Linked DNA regions of Homo sapiens. The protein of the gene in region 7 interacts with the protein of the main gene of each other region in a pairwise test. Each region holds a gene or a part of one and is shown on either strand. Other genes may lie near its edges. The genes, in order: PSMD9, CRX, TOX4, SH3RF2, CDX4, STOX1 and BANP.

What was found.
Region 1: the proteins of BANP (region 7) and PSMD9 interact in binary tests that used the Homo sapiens proteins (3 or more experiments, as listed by UniProt).
Region 2: the proteins of BANP (region 7) and CRX interact in binary tests that used the Homo sapiens proteins (3 or more experiments, as listed by UniProt).
Region 3: the proteins of BANP (region 7) and TOX4 interact in binary tests that used the Homo sapiens proteins (3 or more experiments, as listed by UniProt).
Region 4: the proteins of BANP (region 7) and SH3RF2 interact in binary tests that used the Homo sapiens proteins (3 or more experiments, as listed by UniProt).
Region 5: the proteins of BANP (region 7) and CDX4 interact in binary tests that used the Homo sapiens proteins (3 or more experiments, as listed by UniProt).
Region 6: the proteins of BANP (region 7) and STOX1 interact in binary tests that used the Homo sapiens proteins (3 or more experiments, as listed by UniProt).

The regions. Positions count from the first base shown.
Region 1 is NC_000012.12:121,898,503-121,902,526, forward strand, and holds part of PSMD9 (26S proteasome non-ATPase regulatory subunit 9), read left to right. Parts: intron 1-1,131; coding exon 1,132-1,343; intron 1,344-4,024. UniProt on the Homo sapiens protein: Acts as a chaperone during the assembly of the 26S proteasome, specifically of the base subcomplex of the PA700/19S regulatory complex (RC).
Region 2 is NC_000019.10:47,841,381-47,844,348, forward strand, and holds the end of CRX (cone-rod homeobox protein), read left to right. Parts: 3' UTR 1-1,944; downstream 1,945-2,968. UniProt on the Homo sapiens protein: Transcription factor that binds and transactivates the sequence 5'-TAATC[CA]-3' which is found upstream of several photoreceptor-specific genes, including the opsin genes.
Region 3 is NC_000014.9:21,487,024-21,491,047, reverse strand, and holds part of TOX4 (TOX high mobility group box family member 4), read right to left. Parts: intron 3,598-4,024; coding exon 3,355-3,597; intron 2,459-3,354; coding exon 2,198-2,458; intron 1,876-2,197; coding exon 1,645-1,875; intron 1-1,644. UniProt on the Homo sapiens protein: Transcription factor that modulates cell fate reprogramming from the somatic state to the pluripotent and neuronal fate. In liver, controls the expression of hormone-regulated gluconeogenic genes such as G6PC1 and PCK1.
Region 4 is NC_000005.10:145,939,317-145,943,340, forward strand, and holds part of SH3RF2 (E3 ubiquitin-protein ligase SH3RF2), read left to right. Parts: intron 1-4,024. UniProt on the Homo sapiens protein: Has E3 ubiquitin-protein ligase activity. Acts as an anti-apoptotic regulator of the JNK pathway by ubiquitinating and promoting the degradation of SH3RF1, a scaffold protein that is required for pro-apoptotic JNK activation.
Region 5 is NC_000023.11:73,445,598-73,450,049, forward strand, and holds the start of CDX4 (homeobox protein CDX-4), read left to right. Parts: upstream 1-1,455; 5' UTR 1,456-1,656; coding exon 1,657-2,158; intron 2,159-4,452.
Region 6 is NC_000010.11:68,826,085-68,830,330, forward strand, and holds the start of STOX1 (storkhead-box protein 1), read left to right. Parts: upstream 1-1,446; 5' UTR 1,447-1,539; coding exon 1,540-1,849; intron 1,850-1,892; exon of another isoform or gene 1,893-2,185; intron 2,186-4,246.
Region 7 is NC_000016.10:87,954,222-87,958,245, forward strand, and holds part of BANP (protein BANP), read left to right. Parts: intron 1-4,024. UniProt on the Homo sapiens protein: Controls V(D)J recombination during T-cell development by repressing T-cell receptor (TCR) beta enhancer function. Binds to scaffold/matrix attachment region beta (S/MARbeta), an ATC-rich DNA sequence located upstream of the TCR beta enhancer.

The DNA.
Region 1 (4,024 bases), on a different chromosome or scaffold from region 7:
TGGACTGAATGTCTCCAGGATTACTAGGCTTATGCAGCACTTTTTTTTTTTTTTTTTGAGACGAATTCTTGCTTTGTCGCCAGGCTGGAGGGCAGTGGTGCGATCTCGGCTCACTGCAACCTCCACCTCCTGGGTTCAAGTAATTCTCCTGCTTCAGCCTCCCAAGTAGCTGGGATTACAGGCACCCGCCACCACGCCCAGCTAATTTTTGTTTTTGTTTTGTTTTGTTTTGTTTTTGAGACGGAGTCTTGCTCTGTTGCCCAGGCTAGAGTGCAGTGGCGCGATCTCGGCTCACTGCAATCTCCGCCTCCCTGGTTCACGCCAATCTCCTGCCTCAGCCTCCCGAGTAGCTGGGACTACAGGCGCCTGCCATCATGCCCGGCTAATTTTTGTATTTTTAGTAGAGACGGGGTTTCACCGTGTTAGCCAGGATGGTCTCCATCTCCTGACCTCGTGATCCGGCCACCTTGACTTCCCAAAGTTCTGGGATTACAGGCCTGAGCCACCACGCTCGGCCTAATTTTTGTATTTTTTAGTAGAGACGGGGTTTCACCATGTTGGCAAGGTGGTCGCGATCTCTTGACCTCGTGATCTGCCTGCCTCGGCCTCCCACAGTGCTGGGATTACAGGCGTGAGCCTCTGTGCCCGGCTTATGCAGCATTTTTCCTTCTAGAGGATTTCAGAGAAAAGTGAAATCTTGATTACACCCAGCCTGAGTCATTCATTCACATGATCACAGCGCTGGCCCCTCATACATATGCCTTTGAGTTCATGGCTGTGGATTCAGCTGGTTGTTACCTTCCTTCTGCTCACCTCTCAGGGCTCACCCGAGACAGCACTGCCTTCAGGAAGCCTTCCCTCATATCCTAGACTAGCGAGGGCAGACTTTGCTGCTGGCCAGGCCTCCCTGCAGTCATCAGATGTTATTGTAATTACTTATTCTGGAGCTGCTCCTTGCAGGACTGAATGCTCCATGAGGGAATGTCCTCTGTCTTGGTCAGAGACTCCTTCTCACCTCTAGCTCCACATCTGGCATGTAATAAGCACTTGTTAACTCTTCAGTGAATAAATGTAGGAGTCTTGTGTCCTCCACTGTCTTCCTTGGCCCCTGATGTGTGGTTCTCATCCCAGGCCTGCAGAATGATCACAAGGCAGTGATGAAGCAGGTGGAGGAGGCCCTGCACCAGCTGCACGCTCGCGACAAGGAGAAGCAGGCCCGGGACATGGCTGAGGCCCACAAAGAGGCCATGAGCCGCAAACTGGGTCAGAGTGAGAGCCAGGGCCCTCCACGGGCCTTCGCCAAAGTGAACAGCATCAGCCCCGGCTCCCCAGCCAGCATCGCGGTAATCCAGGGGTTGGCCACTCAAGTCCATGCCCAGGGGACACGGTGGGTCAGGTAGCCTTCGGGGATGTGGAAAGACAGACTAGTTCTCTCCGTGCTGCGGTGCTGAGTTCAGTTACTCATTTAACAAACACTGACTGAGGCCTGTCGTGTATCCAGCCCTGTGCTGGGGGCAGAGTTTTAGAGAGGGGTCAGCCCCGGCTGCCCACTACATTGGTGGGGGAGTGACCTCTTCCCAGTGACAGAAGATGATAAATGTCCCAAGAGAGGGAGAGGATCTCTTCTTGGGGCTCATTTTAGCTGGGCACTGAATGATGAAAATGAGAATGGCATCTTGCCAAATGAGTTATGCATCTTATGTGGTGTCTTAAAAAAAACATTAGGCTGGGCACAGTGGCTCATGCGTGTAATCCCAGCACTTGAGAAGGCTGAGGCGACTTGGAAAGCTGAGATGGGAGGATCACTTGGGCTCAGGAAGTCGAAGTTGCAGTGAGCTGTGACTGTGCCACTGCACTCCAGCCTGGGTGACAGAGTGAGACCTTGTCTTAAAAAAAATTTTTTTTTGACCGGGAGCATTGGCTCACGCCTGTAATCCCAGCATGTTGGGAGGCCGAGGCCAGTGGATCACTTGAGGTCAGGAGTTCGAGACCAACCTGGCCAACATGGCGAAACCCCGTCTCTACTAAAAATACGAAAATCATGCCACTGCACTCCAGCCTGGGCAACAGAGTGAGACTCCGTCTCAAAAAAAAAAAAAAAATTTACCCATTTAAAGTCCGTATACAGTTTAGTGTCTTTTGGTGTATTCACAGAGCCATGCATTACCACAATCAATTTTCTTTCTATTTAAAAAATTTGCAGCCAGGTGCAGTGGCTCACGCCTGTAATCCCAGCACTTTGGGAGGCTTAGGTGGGCGATCACCTTATGTCAGGAGTTCAAGACCAGCCTGGCCAACATGGCGAAACCCCATCTCTACTAAAAATACAAACATTAGCCGGGTGTGGTGACATGTGCCTGTAATCCCAGCTACTCGGGAGGCTGAGGCAGGAGAATCGCCTGAACCCAGGAGGTGGAGGTTGCAGTGAGCGGAGATCGTGCCACTACACTCCAGAGCCTGGGCGACAGAGTGAGACTCTGTCTAAAAAAAAAAAAAAAAAAAAAAGGAGATGGGGTTTCGCTCTGTTGCGTAGGTTGGTCTCCATCTCCTGGGCTCAAGTGATTCTACCACCTTGGCCTCCCAAAATGCTGGGATTATAGGCATGAGCCACCATGCCCAGCCATAATCAATTTCAGAACATTGTCATTGTCTTGTAAAGAAACTCTGTAGTGATTTGCCATCACTTCCCAATCCCCCAGCTCCCCGCACCCAGTTATCTACTTTCTGTCTCTATGTATTTGTCTATTCTGGATATTTCCTATAAGTTGAATCATATAATATGTGACCTTTTATGACTGGCTTCTTTCACTTAGCAAATTTTCAAGTCATCTGTATTGAGCATGGATCAGTGCTTCATTTGTTTACAGACAGGGTCTCACTCTCTCACCCAGACTTCAGTGCCATGGTGCCATCATAGCTCACTGCAACCTCAAACTCGCAGAGTCAAGTGATCCTCCTGTCTCAGCCTCCCAAGCAGCTAGGACTGTAGGCACATGTAACCATGCCTGGTTAATTTTTTATTTCCTTTTTTTTTTAGAGATGGGTTCTCACTATGTTGCCCAGGCTGGTCTTGAACTCCTGGCCTCAAGCGATCCTTCTTCCTCGGCCTCCCAAAGTGCTAGAATTACAGGCATGAGCTGTCATGCCTGGCCCTTCATTCCTTCTTTTTTTTTTTTTTTTTTTTTTTTTTTGAGACGGAGTCTCGCTCTGTCGCCCAGGCTGGAGTGCAGTGGCACGATCTCGGCTCACTGCAAGCTCCGCCTCCCAGGTTCACGCCATTCTCCTGCCTCATCCTCCCGAGTAGCTGGGACTACAGGCGCCTGCCATCACGTCCAGCTAATTTTTATTTTTTGTATTTTTAGTAGAGACAGGGTTTCACTTTGTTAGCCAGGGTGGTCTCGATCTCCTGACCTCGTGATCCGCCCGCCTCAGCCTCCCAAAGTGCTGGGATTACAGGCGTGAGCCACTGTGCCTGGCCCTTCATTCCTTTTTATGGCCAAATAATATTCCACTGCCTGGATATATCATATTTTATTTATCCATTTGTCAGTTAATGGACATTTGAATTGTTACCACTTTTTGGCTATTACGAAGCATGTTGCTGCGAACATTCTTGTACAGTTTTTTTGTGGAGATGTAGTTAAATTTAATTCCACAGCCACTTCTGGGATAGGTCCTAATCTTTACTCATTTCATCCTCGAGGAAAAGCCTTGCAGACCTGAAGTAACTTATGTCAGGACACATAGTTCCTGCCAGGTGGAATGGGGTCCTAAACCCTGGTCAGGACACATAGTTCCTGCCAGGTGGAATGGGGTCCTAAACCCTGGTCAGGACACATAGTTCCTGCCAGGTGGAATGGGGTCCTAAACCCTGGTCCTACCAGTCTTCTTTAATGGTCACAAGTCTGTAAGTTACACAGAAGCTCCCTATCATTCACTACCCCATCTACTGCATCTAACCCAGTGCCAGTTGGCCCACAACAAATACTTGTTACAGGGGTGAATGAGTGGTGGTCTGTCTTCT
Region 2 (2,968 bases), on a different chromosome or scaffold from region 7:
ATTTTCTAAAGGTGAGACACTGGTGGAACTGGGGTAGCTGCTTGGGACGTACCACCTATAGTTGTGGCTATTTCACAGAGAAGCAGCAGCTAGACAGACTCCCATCTGTAAATAAACAAGAGATAGGAAGAGGGGGAAATAGATTTGGAGGAGGCAGCCCTACATTTCAAACATACATTCCCTTTTTTAGATTTTTTTTTTTTTTTTTTTGGTTTTCAGTTTTGATGGTGGGATTGGAAAATAGAGCTTGGCTTGAGGACATTTTCCTGGGGTGGCACCATTATTTCTTGAAATAGAATCTTACTTATGGTGACACTGGCAAGCACTTGTGAGAACCTGAAGACGGATTGAGGTCATTTGATGCTCAGAAGTTGGGTGCTGGGTCCCTGCCTTCTCAGTCCGAGTTCTCCTTTCATTTTTGGGTGGGGAGGCGGGTTCCAAGAGCCCTTCATTGGTGGAGTTCACAAGGCAAGGTGTAAAAAAAAAAGTAGGGCAGGAAGACAGTGGTGTGCTGGCAGAGGTCTAACAATGGGCTCTCCAAGGAAGAGGAAAAGGTTGGTTGTGGAGTGTTTGTCAGTTTCCGTGGTGTAAATACTCCCACCACGGCTGACTTCAAGCTAGCAACCGGAGGTCACTGAACTAAGAGTTGGGAAGAGATAGGGCACAATATATGCTTACGAGTTGGTACACACCGTCAGCAGCAGCCAGGGTCAGGAGAAAGGCGAGATGTGAAGAGAGGCCGGGAGGTATCAGATGACGTTTCCAGCACTAGACCAGAAGAGGTGCACACAGCCTAGACCCCCTGAGGGGTACACCCTGATCTCTAGAGCCCACAAAGAGGTTTTTATTCAACATAAAACGTGTTCATCTCTCATAGGCCTGAGTCATGCTGGGTTCTGGGACATTAAGCCCAGGAGTGGGCCGGGTGCGGTGGCTCACGCCTGTAATCCCAGCACTTTGGGAGGCCGAGGCGGGTGGATCACCTGAGGTCAGGAGTTCGAGACCAGCCTGGCCAACATGGTGAAACCCTGTCTCTACTAATAATACAAAAATTAGCCGGGCATGGTGGCACGCGCCTGTAATCCCAGCTACTCGGGAGGCTGAGGCAGGAGAATTGCTGGAACCCGGGAGGCGGAGGTTGAAGAGAGCAGAGATTGTGCCACTGTGCTCTAGCCTGGGTCACAAGAGCGAAACTCCGTCTCAATAATAACAACAACAAAAATAACCCAGGAGTGGCTCAAGAGTCCAGTGTGGGATGAAAATATAAACAGAGGAAGACAACATATGTCACTGGGGAGGCTGGGGGAGCTAGACAAAATTCACACGGGAGGGGCAGGGATGAGACAATATTGTGCCCTGGGTCTGTGCAAACGTTGGGACCAGAATCCACTATAAGTTTCATTCTTCGGAGACACGGAAGCTCTGCACTGGAGGCCGGGACTCAGGCGTGGAAGAGAATCTTCTCCTTATTCACCGGGGAGGCTGTGTCTTGTGCAAACAAGTCATAGAAACTTGATGGGAGTTGGGGAGGGACTGAAGGATGCATGCAAGGTTCTGGGAAGGAGTGAGAAGTAGTGAAGGCCAAGGGGCCCCCATCACAGGCCGATGGGGTAAGACTTCGAGAGAGCCTGATCCTGGGGTCTTCTGAGACTCCACCAGGAGCCGGAGAGGGCAGGGAGCCAAATCCAGCTAGGAGGTTACAGATTGCTTTTCCTGGGCTGGGCTCCTGAGTGTTGGTTCTTCCAGCTGTGCACAGGGGATTTCAAACGTTCTACGTCCTAAAGCCAGGAAGAGTGACAAGGCAGGTGGGGACAGAAGGAAGAAGCCAGGAGCCTCCCTGAGAAGGTGTCACCTTATCTGTCCTCCTCTTCCCCACACACTGGCCTCTGGGTCCCCCTTCTCTGTCCACCCACAGAGTGAAACCAATTAAAATGTTGGATCTCATTTAAAGTCTGGGTGATTCTTTAGTTTCCGTGTTTTCTCCAGGAGGGGCAGGTAGAAACAGGAACTACTCTGTTCCTTCTGTCTGTGGGGCCTGGGTCCCTCCATGTGTTTCCTGTCTCATCACCCTCCTTTCCTTGACATCTCTCTAAAGCCAATTTATGAAGGATCAGGGGCTGGGTGCAGTGGCTCACGCATGTAATCCAGTGCTCTGAGAAGCTGAGGAGGGAAGATTGATTAAGGCCAGGAGTTTGAGACCAGCCCAGGCAACATAGCGAGATCTCTGTCTCTACAAAAAATTAAAAAAATCAACCGGGTGTGGTGATGTGTGCCTGTGGTCCCAGCTACTCGGGAGGCTGAGATGAGAGGATCGGTTGAGCCCAGGAGTTTGAGGCTGCAGGGAGCTATGATTGCACCACTGCACTCCAGCCTGGGTGATGCAACAAGAGACCCTGTCTCCAAAAACAAAAAATAAAAAAAAAAAAAAAAGAAGGAGGAGGAGGAACAGGGGTCCCCAGGGCCAGCCCCAGCCCCACCCATCTGTAACCTTCCAATGCCCCTCCCGAAAAAACAGGGGGGTGACGAGAATGCTCCCTGCCTCAGTGGCAGGATGTGAAGCTTAACGCCAGCATTTAGAGCCACGCGCAGCCTCTGGCCCGCCTTCCCTCTCAGCATCCAGCCTTCTGCAGCTTCAGCTCTTCCACCCCTTTGCTTTCCATCTCTTCCCCCGGATGCTTTTCAGTTTCTCAATCTCACCCTTGCTCTGTCATCTCTTCTCCTCTCTCTCTTTCCATTCTTCCTCTTGCCTTTCAGACTCCCAGCTCCTCATTTCATTTGGATGGATTTTCACCTTTTTCTTTCTTTCCTTCCCTCTTGTCTCTTTTTCTTTGCTGCTTACTTTTTTCTGACTTTCTTTCTTTCTTTCTTTTTTTTTTTGAGACAGGGTCTCCCTCTCTCACCCAGGCTCAAGTGCAGCAGCGTGATCTTGAATCCCTCCAGCCTCTGCCTCTTGGGTTCAAGCGATCCT
Region 3 (4,024 bases), on a different chromosome or scaffold from region 7:
TTTGGCACCAGCCTGACCAACACGGTGAAACCCTGTCTCTACTAAAAATACAACATTAGCTGGGTGTGGCGGCACATGCCGGTAATCCCAGCTACTTGGGAGGCTGAGGCAGGAGAATCACTTGAACCCAGGAGGTGGAAGTTGCAGTAAGCTGAGATTGCACCACTGCACTGCAGCCTGGGTAACAGGAGCGAAATTCCATCTCAAAAACAAACAAACAAGTAATTCTAAATCCAAACTTGGTAGTGGATTTGAGAGTTAGCCACAGCATGCAGCTTATCAAGTAATAGCCTAATTTTATAAATGGGGGAAAAAATGAGACTTAGAAAAGTTAAATATCTAAAAATTGAACAGAAGGACACTACATGAGGAATTATAGGAGACATTATTAGTGGAAAGTACATGGGAAGAGTTAAAGAACCTGGATTGTGTCTCAACTTTACCACTTAAATGTTATATGACCTTAACTGGGCAGTGGGCTCCAGTTTCCACCTTAAAAGCGGGAAATGGTAGCTATTTTTGAGAGTTATTGTAAAGATGCAGTACTTCTGTAACAATTATTATTATTTTTTGAGATGGAGTTTCACTCTTGTTGCCCAGGCTGGAGTGCAATGGCATGATCTCGGCTCACCGCAACCTCTGCCTCCCGGGTTCAAGCAATTCTCCTGCCTCAGCCGCCTGAGTAGCTGGGATTTGAGGCATGCCACCACACCCGGCTAATTTTTTTGTATTTTTAGTAGAGTCGGGGTTTCAATGTCAGCCAGGATGGTGTTGATCTCCTGACTTCGTAATCCGCCTGCCTCGGCTTCCCAAAGTGCTGGGATTAACAGGCGTGAGCCACCGCGCCCGGCCTATAACAATTATTATTTATTTATTTGAGCCGGGGTCTTGCTCTGTCACCCAGGCTGGAGTGCAGTGACACAAACATGGCTCACTGCAGCCTTTATATCCTGAACTCAAGCAATCCTCCCGCCTCAGCCTCCACAGCTGGGACCAAAGGCACATGCCACCACACCCAGCTAATTTTCTGTGAGACGGGGGTCTCCCTATGTTGCCCAGGATGGTCTCGAACTCATGGGCTCAAGCAATCCTCCTGCCCTGGCCTCCCAAAGTGCTGGGATTAAAAGCATGAGCCACCACACTCAGCCTATTAATAATTTTTAAATAGGCCGGGCGCAGTGGCTCATGCCTGTAATCCCAGCACTTTGGGAGGCCGAGGCGGGTGGATCACGAGGTCAGGAGATCGAGACCATCCTGGCTGACATGGTGAAACGCCGTCTCTACTAAAAATACAAAAACAAAATTAGCCCAGTGTGGTGGAAGCGCCTGCAGTCCCAGCTACTCGGGAGGCTGAAGCAGGAGAATGGCGTGAACCCAGGAGGCGGAGCTTGCAGTGAGCTGAGATCACGGCACTGCACTCCAGCCTGGGTGACAGAGCGAGACTCTGTCTCAAAAAAAAAAAATTTAAATAGGTTTTCTGGAGTGAGTGTATGGCTGCAACTTCGAAGACAAGGGATGATATTTAAGTGTCATTAACAAACAGCTGATATTAGATAAGGACATGTAAGAAAAAAGAAAACCTCAATTTTTATCTCTTTAAAAACTTCTGGAACATTCACTACTAGTTCCTCAATATTTGCTCACCTGTTTTTGCTCCTCTCCAAGACTATCCCACATGGAGGCCACAATTTTTGAAACCTCACCAAAAGTGGCATTAGGATTCTGTCCCTTGATGGCAGCCTGTGTATCACGAAAGAATAAAGCATATGCTGAAACTGGTTTCTGAGGTTCATTAGGATCTTTCTTTTTTCTCTTCTTTGGGGCCTTCTGCTTTTTCCCTGCTTCCACCACGACTGTCTTCTGGCTGGGAAGTTGCTGTAGGAGAGAAAAAAGAGAGAATTACACAATGGACAATGACAAGTATTATGTCTGGAAACTAGCCACATGTATGGAATTTTCAGAAATGCTAAAAATCATAGAAATAGCATTAAAAGACATTAGTCAAATATGGAGAACCAATAAGAATAGGGATTGAGAGGAGAATTATAAACTGGAAATTGGGAGGTGGAACCCCATACCCAGAAAACAGCAGAGGAGATGGCACGGCAAGGGTAAAGAATACTGATTAGGCTCTGTATCCCAAAAATTTTATCCCAGACTATCACAGCAGAATTGATTTTGACAGGGAATGCCTCACCCTCCGGAAATCCTCAACACCATCCTCGTGAAGTGAACTAGTAGGTGAAGGGGTGGTTGAAAGACGATCTTCAGGTGACTGGGCAGGTGGCAGGATGGTGCCACCCCCTAGGCTCAAACCCAGCTGGGAACTCAGTTCTGACTGATCAATGGTGGTCAACTGGCTATGCCCCATCAAGCCAGATGTCATGTCTGTCATTGGTACATCAATTGTAACAGGTGGGTTGGCACTATACTGAGTTCCTATAGAGTGGTCCAAGTCCTGAGAGAAGCAGAAGGACTAATTAAACACTAAATATAAAAAAAACCACTTTTCCCCCCTAAATTTAAGACAGCTTATAAATTCCCTGCCTACCCAAATTGTATCATTTAAAATACAAAACATAAAATAGTCTTCAAAAATGAAAATAAAAAAATAAGCTTTTTAAAAAAGTACAGAAATTAATGAATTTACTTCTTTGCACTCAAAAGAAGAACTAAAAATAATCAGAGAAGTCGCACTGTTGGACAAGTCAAAGAGCTATCAACTTATTCAGTAATATATAGGTAGTGACAACACATTGAGTAAAGAAAAACTTCCTATCTGTACTCTCCCAAAATAATAGCTTTTAAAATTGTAATACATAGGCAATCAGCATAAATAAGGCCAATATTAAAGTCTGGCATCAAATATAGAGTATGAAGATGTGCTTACTGGTTCGATGTGCTGGAAGCCCAATATACTGATTTATATTACATACTAATCCACAATACTATATTTGGCTCAGACTTTTTTTTTTTTTTTAAGCTCTGTTCTGCTGGCTGCTCAACGTGATTCAGGCCATTTTTGAATAAATCCCTCCGTGTGCCAGCTATCACATTCAAATTTGAATCCTAGGATGTGAAGGCCATAATAAAAGCAGAAAACACTTTTTCCCAAAAACCACAATAAATAATTTTCAAACCAGACATTGTACAATTTTAAATTATTTTTCAAGTAAAATCTACCTACATGGTAAATTTCATTTATTCAGGTGAAATTAAGTCTTTGTTGGTGAGCCTTTAGCCACAAGAAGAGAAACAAGTAATACCCAAGTGTAGCAGGGAATAGAGTAACTTTGTCTCCCCTAATGCCATGCCCATTAGCTGGGGTAAGCCTGACAATGTCTTGCCCCTTACCATGGTCAAGCCCCCACTCAGGAGCCCCCCGCCCTGCTCCATCAAGCCATGGGTCATGCCCACAGGCATGTCCAATGTCTGGACCCCATACTGGGCTGAAAAACTGCCATCCTGTGAAGAGGAAGGGTCTGCCAGGTCATCAAAGTGGCCAACCACATCTGAGACAGCCAATGAGGGATCAGAATCCAAGGAGATAGGTGGGATTTCAAATTCCTCATCACCCAAGCTTGGTGTATGGAATGTCTGTAGGGGAAAAAAGGGGGAAAAGAATTAGTGAAAAGAGGAGAAATGGCATACTACTAAGTGAAGAACATAATGGGGTACTAGAGATTCTCAGGATGCATTTTTTCTGCTTAGGATCCTATTTTATAATCAATTTCTTAGAACCTATTATTTTTACCAATCTCTCTTCTGATACCCTTGGTCATTTGGTACATTCAAGGCTGCTAACATCAGTCACAATTTTCAATTCTTTTATCTCTTTTCTACCATTACCGTCTCTTTTGTCTTAAATTATGCCTATGGTTCTAATGAAAAATTCTTTCAGTACCATTACTTAGGACATAGCCTTTATAACCTGTTTACTATGATTCTTGAAATCTCTCTCTAAAGATTCTAATAGAGCAGTTATTTCACAATTATTACATCTAAACTGTTAGGTCACAGAAAT
Region 4 (4,024 bases), on a different chromosome or scaffold from region 7:
TGCTGGCAGCAGTGTCCCACATCTCCCTGCTCTGAAGAGGAATAACGTGTGGGAGGGTCTTGCAGGACTGCTTCCTTACTCAGGAGTGAGGAGTGGCTTGTGATACGCATTTGGAACAACTTTCCGAAATTTTCCTTCTAAGAGCTACCACTTCCTGGGTTCACTGCATCTTTAAACCACCCATGGCGCATGTGTAAACATTCAACAATGAGGGTGGGAAGAAGCAGGACATTTTTTCACTGTACACCCTTGATTTCTTCACTGTAGGCTTTTTATTGCCATTGTGCTTGTAAGTGACACATTCCAGAAAAGGGTTTGGAACTCTTTTTAAGTCCCTCCACTACCCCTGGTCTAGTCATCAATCAGAATCCACAGGTCTGGAAATGGCGAAGTAGGGGTGGGGAAGCAAATTGTTCTCAAACATGCCTTGTTTGTAGAGAAAAGAGCTCTATCTCTGGGTCAGCAAATCCCCCTTGAATTCCTAAGACCTAGCAACCTCTTCCCTTCCCCACCTTGCAGAAGTCTGACCTGCCTTTCAGCGGAGTATCATCACTTACTCAGGAAACGGTGTCACACTGGGAGGAGGCAGTTCCCTTATCAGCTTGGAATATTTTTGTTGTGGTTTACATCTTTCTCAATGTGACTGTGTTGCAAAGGACAGGTAGCGATGAATGGATCCACAGCTACCAAGTTTTTGAACTATAGAGGATTCTCAGGGCCCTTCTGGCACAGGGAATTGAGGTGAGAGCTGGTTGTACATAAGAGACAGCCATTAAGATACTGGGTCTCTCTGGAATTCTTTTGCAGGGACTTATAACATCAGACTATCGTCTGTGCCCACCCTCCAAGCTGCTCTGGACCAAGTCCTGTGGTGAGGCTGAAACTCAAGGGCTCCTGTGTTCAGGCAGGACCTGGGCTAGAAAGATGCTCTGCAAGAGAGCAGAGCTGGCACCCCCACTTCCCAATTCCTTTATGTCCTAACTATCCTTTCTTGAAGTGACTCCTCTCATTCCTTTTGCCTTCCTCAGTGGGGATATGAACAAACCTATTTCTGGATGTCAATATGGCTGCTGTTCTGCAACGTGCCTCTGCTCCCAAAAATATTACCTATCTTTTTTGCAACCATGAAAGCAACCATGCATCCCACAGTTAAGAGAACTGAGGGTTGTCTGGATGCCACAGTCTGTTTAGAGAGTCAGAGGAATGGACTTACATCCTCGGTCAAATCCTCCTGAGTTCCTTGCCCTCTCTGCCACAGTTCAGCCAATCTAGTCAAAAGCTACTTGCTACCCACCTTCCTCCAGGATAGTGTGAAAATTATCTTTGCAACATACTTTTACTGCCTTAGAAAACATCTGCTATGTAAATGCAAAGCATCATCATTAAGATTCATTTAGACATGCTGTATGACTTTGGGCAAGCCACTTATGTTTGCTGGGTCTCAATTTAAAATTCTGTAAAATGGGAAGATGTCATGTATAAAAACAGACAGCTACTGTGAGGTTTAACTAATTAGTATCTCCAAAACACTTTGAGAGCCTTAGATGAAAGACATTTGGAAGATCATTATCACAGTGAACATTATTATTGACTGTTTATTGTGCCCTGCCACACATGAGGCATGCTACAAAATGTAGAAGGAGTTACAGCCCTTGCAGGAGAGTGTAATAGGTATTATTATTGAACTTGATTCTATGATGAGCTCAGGCCAGGATAATACTAAGTATAAAGTACTCCACTCAGAGAGCATAAATAACCTGTTGTCACAGGGCACCATTTTGTAAAACACCTCTTTCAAAGGACTTGCCGATAACCTGGCACCCTGAAAAAGTTCGTTTAACTTTCTGTCCATGAGCTTTTGAAGCCCAAAGTCTGTTCTGCTCACCTAGACTCATCTAAAAAACAAGCTCATCAAGCTCTTTTTGTTGGCTCAAAGAGGCCTGATGCTTCCTGTGCCAACCAGTGTTCTAGGGTGGAACCAATAGTCACACCTCATGGTGCCAGCCCATAGAGAGAAAAAAATTGCCTATTGTGCCTACATGTCTAAAACCCTCCCTAGATGATTGTGTAAAAAGAAAACTTGAGAAACAGCTGTAGGTTTCTGCAGTGTGCATTTATTTCAAACCAACAGGCAAGATCACCAGACTCCTCCAGGAAGAGGTCCTGGTGGTGCAAATTCCACTGGTTCTTCTTATTCCTTCCCTAATACAGTTAAAGCAAAGGAACTTGGCAAGCCTTCAAAAGGATTGTAGGTTCCTGAATAGCTGATCTCTCTTCTTCCTCATTCTGCTACACTTTAGTAATATTTCTGATTTAGGATAGGTGGTAAAGCAGAGAAGTTATGAATCTGTGGACTTGGGTTTGAGAAATACCCAAATTCAAATCCTGACTCTGCCCCTCAACAGTTCTGCACTTTGGGTGAGTCACTTAAACCTCAGGTCCTCCAATTCCCCATCTGTAAATTGGAGATAATGGTAGTACCTACCTCAGAGGGTTGTTGTGAGAAATAAGTGAGATGATTCATGTCACTTAGCTCTTAGCACAGAGACTGGCTCATATTAAGTGCTCAGTAAATGTTAGCTGTGGTTGTTGTTGAAGTGACTCAATACTTTCTACTCTAAATTACACACACCCTTTCAGCCCCTTATTAAGCAAGTGCCATCCAGAGACGGTCCTTGGTACCCTGATTTTTGCATTGTTTTGTTTGCCTCCACATGATCCGTGGCCATGATTCAGATGTGTGATTCTTCCCAGCATGTGCTGGCTTCGCAGCTCACTTCCAGAACCCTTAAGGCACTATGATCCATTCTAGGAGAAAACTCCCTAACTAACTTCACTTTCCCCAAACAGCACCTTCAAAGGAAAACCATACACAGGGCAAGAACCTGGTCTACTTCCTCCGCATCATCAATTCTTTATTAACATTTTTATCTTTCGTTTTTTCCTGCTTCTCACTCTATTCCCCAACACAAATATTGCCATGGGTTCTGTAGGGATGGACTTTCTCCCTACCTTGCTAGCATCATGCCAGTCACACACGTTTCTGTCTTACTTGCCCCTTATCAGCAAGAACACACCTGCCACCTCCAGCACACAGACCAGGTGGCTTTGTCCTAGAAACTTTTCAGCTGGTGTTGCAAGCAACTGATGGGGAAAAAAAATGAGGTCAGAAAACATATCAGGGAATGAGGCTGGGTAGAAACCAGAAGGTGGACTAGCCCCTTTCCTGAGTCTCAGAGGTTGTGTCCTGTAATAGAGCTGTGATACAGACAGTGGGGTTTTTGCTAAATTTGCAAGGGGATTAAAATCATCCCAGGCCCCTGAAAACAGCAGATAGGTGCCATCTGGGACAGCAAGGACCATATGTAGTAGGTGGAGGAAGACATAAAGGTAGGGGCTAAGGTTGAGAAGTCAAGAGACCCAGATGGTTCTCCAGCTTCACACACATTTACAAACATTTTTAATAACCACATGGCCCCACACTGGCACTGCCTTCAATCTCTCTCAGTGTACCTCTTTTCTAGTTAGTCTCCTCTCTTTTATTGCTTACTGTAGCATTTAAGGATTTATGGTGAAGTGGGCTGTATTTGTGCCAGGATTCAATTGTTTGTTAGCTGTGTGGCCTTAGGCAAGTCACTTAACCTCTCTGATCCTCAGTTTCTAGACTTATATAATAGGAATAATAAAGGCATACTTATATCATACAGCTATTGTGAGATTAAAATGATTAAAATGAGATTAAAATGATATACATATATATAATATATATAAAGAGCTTAGCACAAGTGCCTGGCATATAACAGAAGCTAATAAATGTTAGCAACAGTAAATAACAAAAGAGTAACAATGGAAGAGAAAGTCAGCTGGCACTAGAGTTCTTTGCACACACACAGAAACATGCAGGGATCTCCATTAAAAAAAAAAAAGGAACCAAAGAGTACTGCAAAAGGAAAGGGAGTTCTCAAAAAGACAAAACTGTAGTGATGAGAAATAGGTCAGTGGTAGCCAGGGGTTATGGACTGGG
Region 5 (4,452 bases), on a different chromosome or scaffold from region 7:
ACATTTAAAATTGTGACGTCCACCTCCCAGCATTCCGTATATTCCTTCCCTGCTTTTTTTTTTCTCCATAGAGTTGATTACTGTCTGATATACCATAAAATTTAATTACTTATCAGTGTTTCTCCCCACTATGATATATGCTTAATAAAGCCGGAGGCTTTATCTGCTCACCACTGATGTCTCCATACATAGAACAGCACTAAGTACTCAATAAATATTTGCTGAGTGAATACAGTGGTCCCATACTGTGTGCCAAGCACTAAGTTAAGCAGTTTGCTTGCATTATCTGAGGAAATCCTGCTTGTAAGGTAGATACCATTAGGTTCTCTATTTTTAAAAGGGAAAACCCGTGAAACTCAGAGAGGTTAAGTGACTTTCCCAAAGCCATAGATGGATTAGCTAAAAGGGGGTGGGGGTGCCAGGTTATGTTGGATTTTGTGTAGGAGCACATTTCCTGAGTAGGAAGCAGCCTGGAGTAAAGGCTGTGGTAGGTCTTGGGGGTGCTGGGTGGAGAGGAGGAACACAAGAGGAGACCTGGTTTCTTGAGGCAAGATACTGATTTCATTGGCATCTACTAGCAAGTCTATGTCTTTTTCAACAATTGGAGTTTTACAAAGAAAACTTTTTTAGTTTGCTGCAGCTGCCATGGATTTGAGACTGCAAGAGTTCTGGCCCCTTGAGGCACTGGATTTCAGACAGAAGCCATACCTGGCAGAAGGAGACACCTGAGAGTAGTGGATTGACATGAAAATAGGAAAGTTTATTATCCACATGGTTCTCTCTCTCTCCTACCATTTTGCATAACCTACGTTACTCATCTTTCTTTAATTTGTGCATATTTGTAAACAACGTTCTATTAATTCAGCCTGCCATCCACTACAGTGTAATCTTAGGAAGGCAGAGCAAGAATTTTTGTCTTTTATTCACTGCTGTATCCCCATGCCTACACAGTACCTGGCACACAGTAGACGCTCAACAGAGAGTTGTGAAATGAATCTTTGCCCTTGGAAACAAAGGCGTCCTCTTGATGGAGGGAGTAAGGAGAGTAAGGGAAAGCTCTTTTCATTGGCATCCTGGGCCAGTGCCATGCAGTAAACCCCTGCGAGGGAATTGGGCAGAAGGAGACTGCAGATGCAGGTTGGACGCGGGAAGATCGGTGAAAGGGAGGAGGCCGCGGTGTAAGGACTGAATCCTAGAGAGCGGAACTTTGCCCGGTTTCTGCAGGTCTCTATCTGACTTTGAGGGGAGCTGGTCAGAAATCCCTGGAGGAGTTCCTGTCCCCAAAAGCACAATACTGACGCTATGGGGACCAGATGGACAGAATCAAGAAAGATGAGACAGAAAGGCCTGGGAGCTTGGGGAGTGGGTGAACAAGTTCCTGTGAAAGTGAAATGGCCCTTCATTTGAATGCAAATGCTATGTAAAAGCCTGAAGCCCCTTGACGTCAGCCCAGCCATTGGTGGCCTATCTATACAGGGCTGCTAGTCACCTGGATACCCTCGTAAGAAACGTGGGATGGAGTAGCCTGAGGGGTGCAAAAGAGCTTGCGGCACAACTACGTACTGATAAGTTTATTCTCTGCTGCTTCTCAAAGTCGAGTTGGGGCCTTACAGGGACTTCAGGATGGCTTAGGGAGCGCCTTCTACCCAAGACACGATGTACGGAAGCTGTCTTTTGGAGAAAGAAGCAGGCATGTACCCGGGCACTCTCATGAGCCCTGGGGGCGACGGCACAGCTGGGACAGGCGGCACAGGGGGCGGTGGGAGTCCGATGCCAGCCTCCAATTTCGCTGCGGCACCGGCTTTCTCGCACTATATGGGGTATCCTCATATGCCCAGCATGGATCCTCACTGGCCGTCTCTGGGAGTCTGGGGCTCACCCTACAGTCCCCCGCGAGAAGACTGGAGCGTGTATCCTGGGCCGTCTAGTACAATGGGCACAGTGCCGGTGAACGACGTGACCTCTAGCCCCGCCGCTTTCTGCTCGACCGACTACAGCAACTTGGGCCCTGTGGGCGGTGGAACTAGCGGCAGCAGCCTACCAGGCCAGGCTGGCGGGTCGCTTGTCCCGACGGACGCAGGCGCCGCCAAGGCCAGTTCCCCCAGCAGGAGCCGCCACAGCCCCTATGCATGGATGCGCAAGACGGTGCAGGTGACGGGTGAGTAATCAATTCCAATGCCCACACACTTTTCCTTCCTTCCCTTCTCCGCTACTTCTCTTGGTCGGCCTGCCCTCGTACTTCTCAGGCCTCTCCCAAGAGGGCTTAGCTGAGGCGACCCCTATATGGCTGGCTGGCCTATTAGGCATCTCCCTCGCATTCGCCTGGGCTCAAAACTCACTCACTGAGTGCAGCGATTGGGACTAAACCTACCCTAGAGGTGATTTTCGCCTTTCGCTGCTCCATGAAGAAAGCGAGTGAGTGGACAATGGGTATGTTAAGCCACAAGGATCAGGATGCAACCCTGTAGTTGCCCACATGGGAAAAGAGATGCATGAGAAAGCTCAACGGGTGAATGAAGCGAGAGGGCAGCTGTAGTGTCCCGTTGTTCAGGCACTGCTGCTTGACTGTTCCATTTCCAAACCCTTACCCATCTGAGCGGGCTGTCTCCCCCCTCCCCGCCCCCAAAGCTGGTGATGCTCAATTTAGGTTCACAGTGCTTGGCTGGCAACGGACCCTCCAGTTTAGCCACTAAGTCCCCGACGGCAAAGCAACCTCTTCACCCTGGCCTCTCAGGGAAGCTCCAGCTTCCTTCCTACAAGTTGGCAGAGGCAAATTGGCCTAAAATCCATTGCCATCTTACAACGTCCTTTCTTCTAACCCAAGTGTTGAGGCAGGCGAGAAGGCTACAGCACTGACCTGGTACATAATACGGTACCTAACCCTCACACCCGCCCGACACGCAAACGAATCAGCTCCAGCACTAATAAATGGCTAAAGCCCTCATAACTATCAAAGCAGGCGTCTCTCAGGCGTGGGGGCTGAATGCAGGTCTGCGGCAGCGCGAGAGAAGTCAAAGCGATCGCGATCACAGCCTAACCAGCAAGCCAGTGGGCGACTGCTGGGAGCCAGGGCGAGGGAAGTGGCCGTTCCACTTTAATCTTAACCGGGGCTGGGGGAGGAATGTTTGTTTTCAACTGTTGTTCTTTTATTACATTCTTATTATTCCAACCCTCGCTCCCTGTCATTAGAGAAAATTAGTAAAAATCGACTCTGAGTATTTTCATCCCTCTGGGGAGGAAATGGCATTTCAATAGCATTTGTCCGCAATGATTATGCTCCTGTTCTCAGTTCTGCACTTTGTCTTTCCTCCAAAAAGCAAAGACAGGAGGGTGGGAAGTGACCCATTTTTACCATTAGGAGAACTTTTAGCCAGGAAGAGGAAGTTCTGTGTATTAGAACCTCACTAGAGTAGCGATCCCAAGGTAAAAGTAGAGTTGAAATACTTGGCTTTAAAGCGTTTGCAAGTAAATCTGCATTTTAAAAAAATATGAGTGAGTCTGTCGACTAAGTAGAATAGAAAAAGAGGTTAGGGTGGGGCACTCCCAGAGTTTTTATTACATCTAATCTCGGGGTTGTAATTAACATCCACTCACTAAACCCTAACAATCAGCAAAAGACACAAAAGCTAGAAAAGTAGTTGCTCGCAGTCTAGGATTATGTTTTGAAACACATTAAGAGGAAAGTCACTGGCGTGCTGTTTGCAATAGAGAACAAGAGAGGAAATGGATGAGATAAAAGAAATTATCTCCAGCCTTGAATTTTCTATTTATGAGGAAAAATATGACAGTTTTATCTGCTTAAAGGTCTTCCGTTTACATTTGCTTTTATTAGCCTGAGTCTCTCTCTTGGGCAATTCTAATGCCAGGAAAGGTTTCGAAACGGGCTCCTTAGTCTCTTGCATCTTTGAGCTAAACCCTCAAACCTGACTTTACAATGGCACCGTCACAAGATTTTCTATCCAATTTCTATGAGAAGTTTAAAATGGAATGATATTGGAACCATTTCGATTTTTGGCAGCCTATTCTATAGATGAGGCTTCATTAAATTAAAACTTCGTTTCATTTTAATGTCTTATAAATGAAAATAACCCTTTTGCTGTATTCTTATAGTCTAAGGTGCATATTTAGCAGCAATTTAAGAATATGATGAAAAACTTTGGTTATCTCCCTAGAAAAAATGCACAAAGGCACAGCAGCACACACACAAACACAAGTAATTTGTTACATAATTTTAGGAGATTCATGGATCCATTGAAGCCCTTTCAAGGGACATCAGGTTATAAACCCCACGAAAAAAATTAAGCTGATCACCTCACTAGGCCACCCACTCAGGACCAAAATGCACCCATTTATATGCTTAGTACATAGTGGGTCTTAAATATTTGTTTAATGAATGAATGAGTCAGATCCTCCTAAATTTTCCACTTCACTCTGTAGTACTGTGGGATAACA
Region 6 (4,246 bases), on a different chromosome or scaffold from region 7:
CCGCCCACCTCGGCCTCCCAAAGTGCTGGGATTACAGGCATGAGCCACCGCGCCTGGCCCCTTCCTCTTCTTTTAACATGTTGTATTTTCAAATGGGTTTTTTTCTCAAGGAGCCCTCCCGCTGGGCCTCAGTCTGGGTCCTCAGTCTGAATCGGCCTTCACTGCTTTGAGGCACAGGTCACATTCTACCGCCACGCATCACAAGCTCTCCCTTTGCCTCTGGGGCAGGACGGTGTCCGTCTTTTCAGAATGTCCACATCTAACCCAGGGCAGAATCCTACGATATCACCACAGCGCCACACCAATCAGGGTGGCACCTCTCCACTCTGCTTTCCTCAGCACTCAAGAGTATGGGATATCCCCGGGGTAGGACCAGATCCTACAACTTCAGAAAGTCATGGATGAGGCCGGCCGGGCGCCGTGGCTCACGCCTGTAATCCCAGAACTTTGGGAGGCGGAGGCGGGCGGATCACGAGGTCAGGAGATCGAGACCATCCTGGCTAACACCATGAAACCCCGTCTCTACTAAAAATACAAAAAATTAGCCGGGCGTGGTGGCGGGCACCTGTAGTCCCAGCTGCTCGGGAGGCTGAGGCAGGAGAATGACGTGAACCAGGTAAGCGGACCGTGCAGTGAGCCGAGATCGCGCCACTGCACTCCAGCCTGGGCGACAGAGTGAGACTCCGCCTCAAAAAAAAAAAAAAAGAAAGTCATGGATGAAAGGGTCCTTAGTTTATTATCCTGTGAAATAGTAGCTGGGACATTTCTGAGGCCCAGAGAAGGGAAATAACTTGAATGAACAGGTTGGGAGCAGGCCAGGCGATGTGGCGGGCACCTGTAGTCCCAACTCGGGAGGCTGAGATCAGAGGATCGCTTGAGCCCAGAACTCAGTGAATAGCCACTGCACTCCAGCCTGGGCAACACAGCGAGACCTCGACTCAAAAAACAAAAATAGAAACAAACAACTAGCTTAGGCGCAGAACTGAGACTCAAACCTAGGTTTCCTGCTCAACCCCCACACCTCCCAGGCCCCCGCTGACACCCTCAGGCTGTTCCTCGTGGTTGCTAACTTGGAACGGCCCCAAAGCCAGGTCGAAGGCGAGTCTCCCCGCCCTGGGGACTCCTGGCGCTGCAGTTCGCACGGCGGATGGACGCAGTCAGGTTCTCCAGGGAGCTGCGAGGAGCCCCAGGACTTGGAAAAACCCCAGAGCGCGCCCCTGGGGGAAGGGGAGCTCGGGACCTCGAGGCGGCTGGAAGTCGAGGGCATCGCCAGGGGGCCGAGTTGGGCCCGGGTGTGGAGAACGAAGCCGAACGCTGGGCTCTGGATTCTCCTCCAGAGCGCTCCGCCGGCCTAAGCACGGCCGCCCCACCCCCGGCCCGCCAGGCGCAGTCGGCCCCGCCCCCTGGAGCTCCGTTCCCCCGGCAGCCAGCGCCGCGGACCCGCGCGCAGTCGGCCGATCCTCCCGCCGAGCGAGCGGCGTCGTAGCCGCCGCGCTCGCCGAGGCCCTGCGTTGCGGGCTCCCGGCCGCCGGCGAAAGCATGGCCCGGCCCGTGCAGCTGGCGCCGGGCTCGCTGGCGCTAGTGCTGTGCCGGCTGGAGGCGCAGAAGGCGGCGGGGGCCGCGGAGGAGCCTGGTGGGCGCGCGGTGTTCCGCGCTTTCCGTCGCGCCAACGCGCGCTGCTTCTGGAACGCGCGGCTGGCGCGCGCCGCCTCGCGGCTGGCCTTCCAGGGCTGGCTGCGGCGGGGGGTGCTGCTGGTGCGCGCGCCCCCCGCCTGCCTGCAGGTGCTGCGCGATGCCTGGCGGCGCCGGGCCCTGCGGCCGCCGCGCGGCTTCCGCATCAGGGCGGTGGGTGAGTGCGGGACCCGGAGGGGAGGGGCGTCCCGGCCCGTGCAGCTGGCGCCGGGCTCGCTGGCGCTAGTGCTGTGCCGGCTGGAGGCGCAGAAGGCGGCGGGGGCCGCGGAGGAGCCTGGTGGGCGCGCGGTGTTCCGCGCTTTCCGTCGCGCCAACGCGCGCTGCTTCTGGAACGCGCGGCTGGCGCGCGCCGCCTCGCGGCTGGCCTTCCAGGGCTGGCTGCGGCGGGGGGTGCTGCTGGTGCGCGCGCCCCCCGCCTGCCTGCAGGTGCTGCGCGATGCCTGGCGGCGCCGGGCCCTGCGGCCGCCGCGCGGCTTCCGCATCAGGGCGGTGGGTGAGTGCGGGACCCGGAGGGGAGGGGCGTCCCGCGCCAGCTGTGAGCGCGGAGCTCCGCGCTGCAGGGGCGAGCGCGGCCCCGTCTTCTGCCACAGAGGCTAGGCGCTGCTCTGAGGGCCCGGGGGCTGCGGTTGGGCGGCCGGTCCGGGGGGCCAAGACGCCCCGGAGACGTTCCCTCCCGCTAGGACACTGCAGCTATAGTCCCCAAGGTGTGCCTGGCCGCTGCTAGTACTGGCTCCGGGCTGAGTCCGTTCCTCAACTCTTAAAGCCCGTGGAGTGCACAGAAGGAACTTTCTGCTTAGAAAAGTGATGCTCTGGATAGAGAGGCTTTGGGCTAGGGGCCACTGTCTAGGCTCCACCGGGGCGGTTAGGAAGGGTACCCCAGGGGAATGGCCAGAGTTTACCATATCTGGCAGCTTTATTATTATTATTTTTTGAACTACAGATCTGCAGCGAACGGCATTCTGGTTTTCATGTTCTGCAGTGTGGTGGTCTTGGGTCGGGACCTAGCAGCTTTGGGGTCGTTAACTTCTTGGGGAAAACAAGTAGCGTCTCATCCCTTTAGCTGAATAGACAGGATTCCACCTTCCCAGTCTTTTCAAACTTAACTGTTTGTTAGACAACAGCAGCTTTTTGCCTTTTTTCATAAAATAGCTTCTCATTTGAGAAACTAAACCACCGCACCCGTGAGTGGTCTCTGACTCTGGGCACTAAACCCAGGCAGGTGTGTCAGCTCCCTGTAACAACCTTGTTCTTGTCTGCATTTATGTGAGGCTGCAAGGGCCATTTGATGGTGTGTTGACAAGTCACCAGTTGTTCCGCGCTTAATTTTCATTCTTACCAAGGAACCCCTCTGTATTAGTCCATAAATCATCCTCTTCCATCCGAGGAGAAGGAGTCGCAAATAAAAAACATTTGTTTGGCCAGGCGCGGTGGCGCTCGCCTGTAATCCCAGCACTTTGAGAGGCCGAGGCAAGTGGATCACCTGAGTTCAGGAGTTAGAGACCAGCCTGGCTAACATGCTGAAACCCCTCAGGAGTTCAAGACCAGTCTGGCTAATACGGTGAAACCCCGCTTCTACTAAAAATACAAAAATTAGCCGGGGCGTGGTGGCAGGTTCCTGTAATCCCAGATACTTGGGAGGCTGAGGCAGGAGAATCGCTTGAATCCAGGAGGTGGTGGTTGCAGTGAGCCGACATCAGGCCATTGCACTCCAGCCTGGGTGACAAGAGCGAAACTCCGTCTCAAAAGGAAAAAGAAGAAGAAAGAAAAGAAAAAAAGCACTTATTTAATTTCCAGGGATTTGAAAACAGGGCAGCAAGAAGCAAGCACCTGACCCACCGATAACTGTATCATCCATTCAGAGATGGTATTACCACATCCCAGCAGCCAGTGCTTTAAACCTTCACTTCTCACCTCCATGCTGTCTGTTCCCTCTCCTCCCCACCCCGCCCCCGTTTTTCTTAAGCTCAAAAAAGAGCTCTTTGCAAAACCACATATACACATTTCCTCTCCTTTTACTTGCAGGAGTGAAGAAAATAGGTTTCTGGCTCTGAGAGCAGTGAGCCAAGTAGCCAAGCCAAAATCCTCACGAGCGAAGAGGTCTTTCAGACAGGCTCGATGAAAAACTCTTTTCAGTTCTGCATCCTCAGTTTTTCTGGTTTGAATTAGTGGTTACATTCTCAGGTCCCCCCTTTCAAAGGGTGAGCACAGAGTATATTGCAGAGAGGGAGTGGGATGCAGGGTGGGGGGTCTAGACCTGGGGGCGAAATAAGAGAGGGCTTGTGCTAAGTCACGGGCTGCCACTAATGCCCCAGTGAGCAGTGGTAAATGCTGGTGTCTGTGTTGGTGCTGTTTGCTGCCATCTGAAATATGTATCACACGTCACCTGTTGCTCCCATTCTCTTCTGCCCAGTGGGTAATGCTGCCTCATAGCACAACTCAGGATGCAGTGGACACTATGACCCCATCTGTGGGGTGTGCAACGCAGTGGACTTCCGCCGGCTCATCACCCTTGACTTGGGTCTCCTGGCAGGAATGATTTTGAGGTTTTCAAATT
Region 7 (4,024 bases):
ATGTGTTCACAATCAAATTTTTAATGTCCAAGCATGTATTTGTCTTGTTTCTTTTTCATAGTAGCTTATTGTTACACAAGTGCCTCATCTCCATGACTCTAAGGAAACTAATAAGGATTCTTCCCAGCTCTCCTTTGTTCTGATTTCTTGTTTCCACTAATGTCACTTAAAAAAAGTGTTGGCTTCTTCCTCTTTATGGCAAGTCCTCCATACTGATGTTTACTGTTGTCTGAGGCAGGAGGAAGCTGGCGGAGAGCCCCGGGTCTGTGGGGTGCTTTTGAAAGAGTCCAGTTTCCCCTCGGGTGATTGGGAGCCTGTCACCGTGGGACCTGGAGCACCAACTTGCAGATATTTTCTCTGGGCTGTTCCGCTTCTTTAGGAAGGCCCCTTTGCTGGCCGTGGGGGAGTTAGCTCTCCTGTGCGGGACCGACTTGGCAGGTGCGGGTTTGGCCTGCCCGCAGGGCTCTGCGAGGCTTGGAGCCCCACGCCTGTGCCCCCGGTGCTTTCCCTCTGCCCTGATCGGGTCCTCTGCATCTGTCAGGAGTGTGTTCTTTCTTGTGGGTTGATAACACCCTATTAAAGATGATGTTAATGGAGTGAGAGGAGGTCACCCGTACGGCCAGTCACTCCCCTTGAGCAGGAATTTGCAAGCCTGTTCTATTCACTCCACCTTCCTGCTTCCTTGTGGCCTTGGTAATTGCCCACAGTCAACGGGGTGAGGTGCCAAGCCGCCGTTCCACAGCCGCCTCTGAATTGCAGCGTGGGCTGGTGGCTCTGGCCCTGTGGCCTTGGAGGGCTGCCAGCGTACCTGGGCAAGGCCCGGCAGACCCGTGTGGTAGCAAAGACCCTGACTTTGGCTCCTCGCTGGGTCAGTGTGCCAAGCGGGCCGTCTGCCCTGCTGGGGTCCAGGAGGGCCTGCAGTGAAGCAGTGGTGAGCGTACTGGGAGCATGATCTTTCTGCATGGTGGCTGACTGTCACTGGGAGGTTGTGTGTAGTGCGGTGGGCTCTGTCTGCCAGAGCCTTGCCAGCCGAGCGTCCAGGGGCCAGCTGTGTCCATCAGCATCACTTGGGTATTTGTGAGAAACGCACACTTTCAGGCCCTACCCAGGTTCTCGTGCAGAATCAGACTGCAGCTTGGTCAGCTTTTAATTTTCAGATAGTTTTTGACTTTACAGAAAAGATGCAAAAAATATTTCACTGAGCTTCCCTGTTGTCTTCATCTGCTTCCCCTGATGTTGACGTCTTATGTAACCAGGCATCCATATAAACGCCAGAAAGTTCACAGCATTATTGCGTAAATGACAGACCTTATTCGAACTTCGGTTTTGCACCAGTGTCCTCTTGCTGTTTCGGGATCCCCTCCGGGACCCCACACTGGTGCGTGTGGCCGCCCTGTCTCCTTAATGTCCTTCTGTCTGTGATATTTACATAGTCACAAAGTATCTCCCCCAAGATACACGTCACAAAGGGAAAAATAAAACTGTAGCCTCTCGGTGGAAAAACCCAGCAGATACTGTGTGAAGCAAGTGATCGGGGTAACACCATCAGTCATAAGACGTTGACACCAAGGACCCAGTGAGACACATCACTTCTCTGGCAGTGTTGCCAGAAATGCAGTCTCATCATGAGAAAATGCTGCACCCAAACTGAGGGATGCTCACCACAGTCCTGGCCAGTGCGTCTCAAGTGTCCAGGTCTTGAAAGACAGGGAGGCTCAGAATTTCCTGCAGGCAGGTGGCCAGGTGATGTGTGTGCACCCTGGTCCACACGGAAGGCCTTCCCACAACCTTGAGGGAGGTGAGGGAGTAGGGGTTTGGGGGCTCCAGGCACAGGTGCTGGGCAGTGGGCCTCAGTGGTCTTGCAGCTCCCCCGTCAGGATTGTTAGCCTTTGGGTTCCTCGTCTGCAGTGATACTGTACAAATCCCAAAAACTCCAGTTACACGATTAAGTGATTGACATGACATGGAGTCGCAAGGCTGACTTGAAAATGACTGTAACTCACAGCACCAGTTTAGCCACTGCAATCTAGAGAAACTAAACATTTCCTCATTTTGAAGGAAAGACTTCTTGGGGAAAGTCAATTTGAGGGTTTGAATGAGAATGAGATGAAAGCTTTAGAAGGTCCTCCCTGTGCCTGAGGTAGATAAACATCTGTATTTTCTCTTCACACGGGTGACGGTGGTGAAAGCATGACATCATCTGACTTGGTCAGCAGAAGTGCTCTGAACCATCCGGAACTTTGGGGGCCTGGGGGCCGTGGGGAGGAGTTTCAGGAAGTTGAAAACAGTATTGGGTGGAATCACACACTTGCAATTTGCTCTGAAAAAGCTACACTTGTTTTGTTCTCAGCTGCACCTGGGGCCCTTCAGCCCCTGCAGGAGAAGAATGGGGCGAGTGATTGGTACGTGGCCTTCCCAGCCTGCAGAGCCGCCTGCTTTGGTTGTAATCATAGGCAAGCTCAGCCTGCTTTGGTTGTAGTCGTAGACAAGCTCAGGTTTCCGCCTCTGCACGTCCCGGTGGGCTCGCCTGGGACTCCCTTTGTCTGTTGTACAAGACTCCACTCTGGCCCCCCCTTTGGAAGAGACGATGTCTCCATCCTCAGGAAGTAGAGAAACACTCTCCGCCACCCTCCATCCTGACCCCCGTGCAGAGGATGAAGTGCTGTCCCAGAAGCCCCCTCTCAGGGGTGCCGTAAGTCTCAGAGAGAGGAGCACCCCGGGGCCTCCGTGGCAGAATCCTGTGAGTGTCTTTGGTTAAAATGTGCAGGAAGTGTTAACTCCTAAGCTGCCAGCAGATGGTGTGCCGAGATACTGTGAAGTCACATGAACTTGATTCCTGTTGGAAAGAACCACTCTGCAATCCTTCGCGTCTACACTTCGTCAAGAACCGTCCAATTTGATTAAACATTCTGGATCGTCAGCGTTCACGGTGGAGCAGACTCCACGACTCGCTGCTCCCATGGGAGGTGTCTCTCTGGGGAAGGGGTCAGTGGTGGTGGAGGATGGCGCGGTGCTCCATTCGGAACCCACAGGTCGCCAGCTTACAGCGTGGGAGCTGTGGAAGGACACATGGAGCAGAGGCGGCTGAGGAGGTGAAAGGCTGAGAGGAGGCTGCAGTGAAACACCTGAGGAAGGCTGGGCAGAATGGATCGGGGGTGTGTATTGGCTGCAGTCACCTCCCCTCTGCTCGTCTGTGTCCACATTCTGTCGTGGTTGAGACCGGATCCTGTGTGGACCGGGTGGGCTGGTGTGGAGTCCTGTCAGGAGACCTGGGGCGGTTTTGAGGCAAGCTCACGGAGGCCTGCCGCAGGGCCCTGCGCTGACAAACCTTTCGCTAGTGACCAGTTACCTTCTGTGTCTGAGAGAAGGCCGTTGTGGCCTGTAGTGATTTTCCTTTTCCCTTGAGATGAAAAGTCATCAAATATCTGGAAGCAAAGCTTAATCTTTCTGAAAGTAGAAACGCGTTTGGATGGAGCCGGGAGGGAGAACTGGGTGCGCGCTTGGCATTTCCTTGCCGGTGTGAATGCGCTTCCCGTAAATATGGCAGAACGCCTTCACCTTTCACCAGATGACGCGGGGGGAATTGGGCCACGGTCCCTGCTGTCATCATGGCATGCTGCAAGCTCTGTGGGCGCTGGTGGCCAGGATGCGGACAACCCCTGCCGCTACGTGTCCTCAAGTGAGCTCAGCTCTTGTGTCGGTGGGAGCTGGCGGTGGGTCCCTGAGCAGAGTGCTGCCGCTGCCAGTCTGCGTTTTCTGCCGAAATGCGTCCCTGAGATTGAGAAAGTTCACACCCTAAGTGTTTTTAGAAGGCTGGGTGCCCTGTTTCCCAGCCAACAGTTGTGACTGTCAGTGGGCAAACACAGTTTGCAATAATTGGCCTGTTGTCTTACAATTTCTGGCTCTCCTCTTTGTGGTGTAGGTCATGTTAGGTGGTGGTCCTTGGTCGTTTGTGCCACGTTCCCTCATGTTCTTGAACTCTGAGTCCCTAGAAACTGACATTGGTCTTATTTTGAGTGCATTA